2 separate regions of the Homo sapiens genome follow, and region 1 is linked to region 2. The links come from fine-mapping of genetic effects on gene expression. A gene starts in region 2. The other region holds a variant in brackets. All regions are shown on one strand. Distances are between the middles of the regions. Region 1 has its middle 10 kb from the start of XYLT2. Region 2 holds the start of LRRC59 (leucine rich repeat containing 59).

Region 1 (4,520 bases), 61 kb after region 2:
AGGGATTCCCATCCTAGGTTTACAGAGATGGCCAAACACACGACATTTGATTCTGGGCAGATGAGATTGACAGTAGTGTATTAGTCACATATACTCATAGCCCAGGGCAGGATATCACACACCATGCAGGGCCACACAGGGGTTGCGCTCAGAGACAGTGAGCAACTAAGGGCTGTGGGAGGCAGGCTTTGTAGTATCAAGAGGATGAGATGTCCCCTAGTTTCAGCAGGAAGATGTGACTGGCTTATGTGGATAATTATGCAGGCTGCAGGCTGGCAGGAAACTGAAACCCACTACTCAGGAATAAGCAGGAAGTGCTCCTGGTCCCCTTGATAAGGGGGGTTATTTGGCTGGGGGACCTTATCCAAGGGAGCAGAGTGAGGAGGTGAACTTGTGGCTAGGCCAGTCAAAGCCTCCCAATTTCACCGCATATAAAGTCAGTATCAGCATTTAATACTGCGCCTGAGTTTTAGGCCTTAAACGCATTTTGCTGTTAATTTTCCTTTCAGGGCTATATAGACTGTTCGTCTGCTATAATCTTCCTTAATAATTTAGAAAGCAAGAATTAGAATTCTTTAAAAAAATTTTTTTTTCTTTTTTTAGACAAGGAGCATCTTACTATATTGCCCAGGCTGGCCTTGAATTCCTGGACTCAGGTGATCCTCCCTCTTCAGCCACCCAAGTAGCTGGGACTACAGGTGTGCACCACTGTGCTAGCTCTAGAATTCTTTTTAAAATTCTACTTGTGTTTACTTACAACTTTTCAGATAATTTTAATGTGACATTGTTCCTCAGTGGGTAGGCCTGTGCAAACCTGTCGCCAAAGTCCAAGGAAACTGAGAGACTGAAGAAAAAGGCTGACAAATTCAGTTTCTTAGAAATAAACAATAGGAAATTAGAAACAGAAGCCAGGTCTGTGTCTTGTGCAGTGGCTGGCAGGGAGACAAGATGTTACCCCCTAAGACCCAGGGCTTATCTACCACAGGGAAGGGGTATATGTGATCCAGAAGGCAGGTGAAGGACAATTGAAGTATGATAACATCAAAGTTGTTTTGACCTAAGGGAGGTAAGTACCTGTTCTTACACAGGTAACAATAGATAGACTGGAAAGCTTAGAGGAATTCCCAGAATTGGGGCTAATCAGAAGTCATCATGGCGGCTTAGCCTCCAATATGGAGTTGCTTTAGCCTTCACAGATATTCAATGATCACAGTCCTCATAGAACTATAATTTTTATTTCCCATTGTAGAAAATTAGTTTCTCCCTATTCATCCCCACTTCTTTTCTCTCTCTACTATGTGAACAAGGATCATTCTCACTTGTTAAAAGTTCATCTGGGGTTATGAACTTTGTCATTTTGGTTTATAATGTAGCTAATTTCTTTTAAGGGAATAATCTCTCTTTTTTTTAATCTTCAGTTTTGAGACTATTTAAAAATATTTAGAGTAATGCATATATATTAACTTGTTCAATGCCCTTTGCCAAGTAGATAATTTAAAAAATTACTTCCTGAGGCAGGCAGATAGCTTGAGCCCAGGAGTTTGAGACCAGCCTGAGCAACATGGCAAAACCCCATCTGTATTAAAAATACCAAAATTAGCCAGATGTGGGACTACCGTCGGTAGTCCCAGCTACTCAGGAGGCTGAGGTGGGAGGATTGCTTGAGCTCAGGGGAGTGAGGCTGCAGTGAACCATGATCACACCACTGCACTCCAGCCTGGGTGACAGAGCAAGGCCCTGTCTCAAAAGAAATAGTTCAAAAATTTCAAAAATAAGGCAACGAATTAATTAAAAACTGTTTCAGAACAGCCAATGATCTCCCTTTCTTTCCCCTCTGCTCTCTACTTAGAATTAACCAGCCTGGCCCGTTTGCTTTGTTGCTTCCACATTCTTCTCTCTGCTCATATAAATATATGCAGATGTCAACCCTTTGGTAGGTTTCCACTCCATGTTTTACAGAAGTAAGATGATACAGAAATTACCCAACACTGTGTTTTTAAATAAATCATCATTTTATCATGGATACCCCTCCAGGTTAATACATAATAGCTACATAATGTTTATTACTTTAGTATAGATACACCATAATTTATTAAGCCATTCACCTGTTATTGGGCATTGAGGTCATTGCTAGTTATTTTG[C/T]CCCTACACATATGGCTTCAAGAAGCATCTTAGTTCATATCACCTGATATACTGGTGTCTTTATTTTTGTATGATAGATTTCCAAGAGTGAGATGGGTATGTACATTTCTCTTTTAAAAGATATTGCCAGAACATTGCAAAAAGGTGCTAGCAATCTGTAGTCTTGAGAAGACATGAAAACTCTCCTTCCCCTAAACCTCTAAGCAGGTGCTTCAAGCTAGATATTTTTCTCATTCTTGAGTATTTACATCTGATTTTTTCTCTACTGTCCTGGCATACATCTTCAAGTGATTTATTAAAGAAGAGTATTCAGGAGGGATTCTTTTAAAAATAACTTCCACACCTGAGGTCTTTTTGTTGCCTTCATACATGAATGACAACATGGCCTATCCTTTAGGTTTTTCTAGATCAGTGTAGTTCAAACTACAGGTCACAACCCACTCAATTTAAAGGATTATGGCTACATTTTAAAAAACATAGAATGGGGGTGGGACATGGTGACTTACACCTATAATCCTAGCACTTTGGGAGGCCAAGGCAGACGGATTGCTTGAGCTTAGGATTTTGAGACCAGCCTGGTTGTCTCTACTAAAAAAAAAAAAAAAAAAAAAAAAAATTGGCCAGGTGTGGTGGTGCATGCCTGTAGTCCCAGCTACTCAGGAGGCTGAGCAGGGAGGATTGCTTGAGTCTGGGAGGTGGAGGCTGCAGTGAGCCATGGTTGTGTCACTGCATTCCAGCCTGAACGACAGAGTAAGACCCTGTCTCAATGAAAAATAAAAAAAAATAAGTTAGTCGAGCATGGTGATGTGCACCTGTAGTCCCAGCTACTTGGGAGGCTAAGGTGGGAGAATCACTTGAGCCCAAGGGTTTGAGGCTGCTGTGAGCTATGATCATGCCACTGCACTCCAGCCTGGGTGACAGAGCAAGACCCTGTCTCAGAAAAACAAGAAAAACAAAGCTCCACACAGTGGCTCACGCCTGTAATCCCAGCACGCCTGGTCTAAAAGTACAATGTATTTCTAATGATGACTTGAGATAAAAAGAAATTGACATTTTCTTCTTTTGCATGCTGTAGTCTTGAGAAGACAGTGATTTATTCAAGAAGACTATTCAGGAGGGATAGCTCACAGCAGCCTCGAACTCTTGGGCTCAAGGGAAGTCTGAGATCATTTTAATTTAAGCTCTCTGTTATTTTTTCCCATTTGTTTGTAAGATCCTTATTTATCACTGCCCCTTCCTGCATTTAAATTTGTTTTAAAAACTTTTTAAAAAAAATATGACCAGGCGCGGTGGCTCATACCTGTAATCCCAGCACTTTGGGAGGCTGAGGCGGGTGGATCACAAGGTCAAGAGATCAAGACCATCCTGGCCAACATGGTGAAATCCTGTCTCTACTAAAAATACAAAAATTAGCGGGGCATGGTGGCGCATGCCTGTAATCCCAGCTACTCAGGAGGCTGAGGCAGGAGAATCGCTTGAACCTGGGAGGCGGAGGTTGCAGTGAGCCGAGATCATGCCAGTGCACTCCAGCCTGGGCAAGAGAGCGAGACTCCGTCTCAAAAAAAAAAAAAAAAAAAAAATCCAAGAGAACTAAAGATAGAAAAGTAAAATCTCTGGCCAACCATGGTGGCTCATGCCTGTAATCCCAGCACTTTACGGGCAGGTCACTTGAGCCAAGAGTCCAAGGCCAGCCTGGGCAACATGGCAAACTCCTTTCTCTACAAAAAAATACAAAAGTTAGCTGTGTGTTGTGGCACATGACTGTAATCCCAGCTACTGGGGAGGCATGAGAATCACTTTAACCTGGGAGGCAGAGGTTGCAGTGAGCCGAGATCGCAACTTTGCACACCAGCCTGGGCAACAGAGCAAGACCCTGTCTCAAAAAAAAAAAAAAGAAAAAGAAAAAGAAAAAGAAGTAAAGTAAAATCTCTCTTCCCTTTCAGTTTCCTATTTCAAGGGTGTGTCTGTGTGTCTGTGTGTATGTTCCGGCAATTTTCTTAACTTTTTTAACTTTGAGAATTCCATCATAGTGTGTCTAAGCGGGGCCCTCTTTTCATTAACTTTGCTGGGAAGTCAGAACATGCTCTCAGTTTCCAGTTGAGTTCTTTCTTTACAGCAGGAAACTTTTCCCCTCCCATTTCTTTGAATACTGCTTTCCCTATGTCTGTTTTGTTCTCTCCAGAATTCCGATTATTCCCAGGTTATATCCCCCGTGTCTGACCGCCTGCCTCTTTCTTTTCGTCTTTTTATCATTTTGCCCTTCGTCATGTTAATTTTATTTTCTCCGTGTCTTGTCTGCTATTTACAGCCTCCATCATGGTTTCCCACCAGAGCTATTGTGGTTTCTGTCTCCTTGCTACACTTCCTGCTCTCAGATG
Region 2 (4,000 bases):
GCCTGAGAGCACAGGAGGAGGGACAATGATCGGGATATAAACCCAGGCATTCGAGCCGGCAACAGCAACCCCCTTTGGGTCCCCTGCCATTTTATGGGAGCTCTGTTTTCACTCTATTAAATCTTGCAACTGCACACTTTTCTGGTCCGTGTTTGTTACGGCTTGAGCTGAGCTTTTCCTTACCGTCCACTACTGCTGTTTGCTGCTGTCGCAGACCCGCTGCTGACTTCCACCCCTCTGGATCTGGCAGGGTGTCTGCTGGGCTCCCGATCCAGTGAGGCGCCCATTGCTGCTCTGGATCAGGCTAAAGGCTTGCCATTGTTCCTGCGTGGCTAAGTGCCTGGATTTGTCCTAATTGAGCTGAATAGAGCTATAACACTCATTGCATGGCCCAAGATTCCATTCCTTGGAATGCGTGAGGCCAAGAAACCCAGGTCAGAGAACAAGAGGCTTGCCGCCATCTTGGAAGTGGCCCGCCACCATCTTGGGAGTTCTAAGAACAAGGACCCCTGCCACCCACCCCCCGTAACAATTGCACTTACTTTATTTGGTGTTCATAGTTTCCCTCTGAGACAAGATTTTTTATTTTTTATTTTTTTAGAGATGGGGTCTTGCTATGTTGCCCAGACTGGTTTTGAACTCCTAGCCTCAAATAATCCTCTCATCTTGGCCTCCCAAGTATTGGGATTACAGGTGTGAGCTATCCTGCTCGGCCCCTCTGAGATAAGCTTTAATATCCCTATTTCAAAATGAGTAAACTGAGGTTTGGAGTGGGTAAAGTGCTTCCTTCCTTCATTCATTCATTCATTCATCCATCCATCTATTCATTTATTCAACAGACATCTGAATGAGTAGCTACCCTGCATCAGGGTATGCCAACTCTGGGCATACGAAGATGATTAAGACAAAAATCCCTGTCCTCACAGTCCAGAATGAAGGACAGACACATAAAGATGAGTATAATACAAGGTGGATCATGAATTGTAGCTAATATTTATTGGGTACTTACTAAGTGCCAGTGACTGCTGTAAGCTCTTGGTGTGTTTTACTCCTTCAGTTCTCCCCAACCTCTGTTAGCTACATGTCTCATAGATTGATTCATAGATAAGACTGAAGCCTGGTGATTGTCTACGGTTTTATAAGTAGCAAGTGGCAGAGCCAGGATGAATACCCAGTGGATAGGTATTAGTGCCAGAGGTCCCACTTGGCCATCAAGCTCTACTGTCTCTGATGATAAAGTAGCAAACAGGGACCTAAGTTGGTTGGGGGGGGCGCTAACTCAGTCTGGCATTCACGGTGTTCAGGGGAGATTTCCTGAAGGACTAAGGAATTAGCTAGACAGAGGTGAGTGGGGGGGAGGGAGGGCCATCGCTGGGGAGGGCCAGACGTGGGAGCCACCTCCTGGAAATCTACACAGCATCTAGGCCAGGCAGGGACTGGAGCGTGTGAGGAAGCTGCGAAAGCAGGCAGGACCCAGCTTCCAAAGGAAAGTGGTCCGTATCCTAGAGGTAGCTGCAAGTTTGAAGGGTTTTACGTAGGGGAGAGACTTGGCCAGATTTTTAGAAAGATCACCGGGGAGCTGGGTGAAAGTGGATGGAAGGACAGAGACAAGCACTGAGGCAGTGAGTGGGGAGGAGAGAGGAGAAATTCAGGAAGAAGAGTTTTCCCCATGATGGTTATTCGGGGGTTAAGTAGAGGACAGGGAGCAGTTTTAGAGGACACCCAGCTTCTGCTCCTAATCAGGGGGATTGGGGTGATCTGATGAGGTCAGTATTGGATGTCAACCCAGTCTTCTGGCGCCCAGTCCGTGCCCTTTCGCCTCGTGGCACTGCCAGCAATAATGCCCGCGGGCCACGGGTGAACGTGAACCGAGCTCGCAGCCTCCAACCCCACCCCTCCGGCGGCGGCGACGTGCAGTGCATCACCCTGGGCACCAGGGGGCGTGCCCGCACACGCTCGGGCCGCTCTGGCCCAGCCCATCTCAGTGGTCGCGGAAGGTGACGTGGACACGGAAGTGGTCGTCGTCGCGGCACCGGTGGGAGCTAGGCGCGAGGCTCGGAGTGCGGCCAGCGGGCGGAGGCGGTCTCGCATCGGCGGCGACGGAGGGCTCAGGCGTCGTCGTTTGGGTGGGGGGCCGCTGAACTGACAAGCGACATTTCAGCTCCTTTCACCCGCCGGAACCCCGGAGCCGGGGCCCGCTCAGCCGGCGTTACCATGACCAAGGCCGGTAGCAAGGGCGGGAACCTCCGCGACAAGCTGGACGGCAACGAACTGGACCTGAGCCTCAGCGACCTGAATGAGGTCCCGGTGAAGGAGCTGGTCAGTATCGTCCCGCGAGGCCCAGGCGCCCACCTTCGCCGGGCGCTGGCCCCTACGTGGGCCACTTACTTTCCTCTTCTCTAAAAGCATCAGTTTCCTTTTCTTTAAAAAGAAGCGGGGTGGTGGGACTAAGTCCCCTAGGAGGCCGCGTCCAGCCCAAGGTTCTTCCCGGGATGTACACGTGTCACTTTGGCGCAGTTCCAGAACATAGGGAAGATCTGCTTCTCTGGCCCTAGGCTTTTTACAGGCTAAGAAGCGAATCTGTCACCTTTGCGGGGCTTTCACAGCGCCCACCTCCGTGCCCGACTCTGAGTAGGAGCACACGGAGCAGTTACTGGATGTATTCGAGAATGAATGAGTGACTTGTTCCAGGGGAGTAGGCCTCCTGGTAGACCTGGGTGTGGCCCAGAACCTGGCTCTTCTAGGAAGCTGGCAATTCCAGCTGGCTGCCCGAGCCCTGAGGCAGCCTAACTCGAAGAAAGTAAAGTCTCCCCCCAGCTTGGCTGGTAAACTGTCATCTGAATTCCGCTGAAACTGGCGGGAGTCCCTTTCGCCCCTCTCTCCCCCAACCTTTCCCCTGTAAACTGAAGCTTACAGCTCCAGAGAGATAGCAGGCATCTAGTTTTGTCAGCGTGGAGCTAGTTCCCACATCCCTCCTTTTCCCACTCCGTTCCCCCTCCCACCCGCGCCAACGCCCTACTAGACTCACTTTGGGTGACCCACACTTTGCTTTCTGCCGTTGATAAATTACATTTGCCTTGGGCGCTGGGCCCAGTCTTTCTTCCACCGTGGACGGGTATTACAGTGGTTAGAACCGGGTTCCTAGCTCCTCCCAGCTCCATTGCTTAATAGCCGAGTGCCCTTGGCAAGCTAGTTAGCCTTTATGCCTAGATCTCCTCATCTATACAATGGTGATAATAGTTTCCATCTCATACGCTTATTGGGAGGTTAAATACCATTGTAATGGAAAATGCTTGGAAGGAGCAAATACTGATACTTGTAGCTGTTGTTGTGTTTTTCCCGCTGTAGTATTTAAAACTTTTTTAGGTGGTCAAACTTCACTTTTACGACTTTGTGACAGAAAGTGCAGGTTGCCAGAGGATCCTTAACTGAATATATGCCTCCTTTTCTACCCCAGGAAGATAGATGGCCAGCCTTATTTCACCCTGCCCTAGGACTGCTCTCTGAAACCATATACTCCAGGCATCTGAACAGTCCAGCATTAACCTTAGGGAGAAAGTTTTGCTGAGCTTGTCCAGCCTGGACACCATGGGAAAATAGAGATGGGCTGTGAGGGCCTTTTTTTTTTTTGGATGATGGAGTTTTGCTGTTGTTGCCCAGGAGTGATCTCGGCTCACTGAAACCTCTGCCTCCCGGGTTCAAGCGATTCTCCTGCCTCAGCCTCCCGAGTAGCTGGGATTACAAGCGTGTGCCACCATGCCTGGCTAATTTTCTATTTTTAGTAGAGACAGGGTTTCTCCGTGTTGGTCAGGCTGGTCTCGAACTCCTGACTTCAGGTGATTGCCTGCCTCAGCCTCCCAAAGTGGTGGGATTACAGGCGTGAGCCACCGCACCCGGCAGGGCCTTGTTTTTTCACTCTGTCATTCACTCCGCTACTTACTCGATCAGTCATGATTCAGGCAACATGTATGGATATTGAGTACCTGTTCTGAGGAAGGGC

Evidence for each region. PIP is the estimated chance that this variant, and not a neighbour inherited with it, causes the effect.
Region 1: its variant is the best candidate, but not a certain one, in a credible set for the expression of LRRC59 in whole blood (TOPMed, PIP 0.86).

What each region holds. Positions count from the first base shown.
Region 1 is chr17:50,333,825-50,338,344 of GRCh38, reverse strand. No RefSeq gene overlaps it. Among named protein-coding and RNA genes, the nearest start is that of XYLT2, 10 kb to the left of the region's middle. The variant C/T (reference allele first, on the strand shown) is at 2,143.
Region 2 is chr17:50,395,532-50,399,531 of GRCh38, reverse strand. It overlaps LRRC59 (leucine rich repeat containing 59), which reads left to right and starts at 2,009. Exons shown (of 7, transcript NM_018509.4): 1 at 2,009-2,319. The coding sequence starts at 2,215. It overlaps LRRC59-AS1 (LRRC59 antisense RNA 1), which reads right to left. Exons shown (of 2, transcript NR_199069.1): 2 at 975-2,316. RefSeq lists a silencer at 1,963-2,032.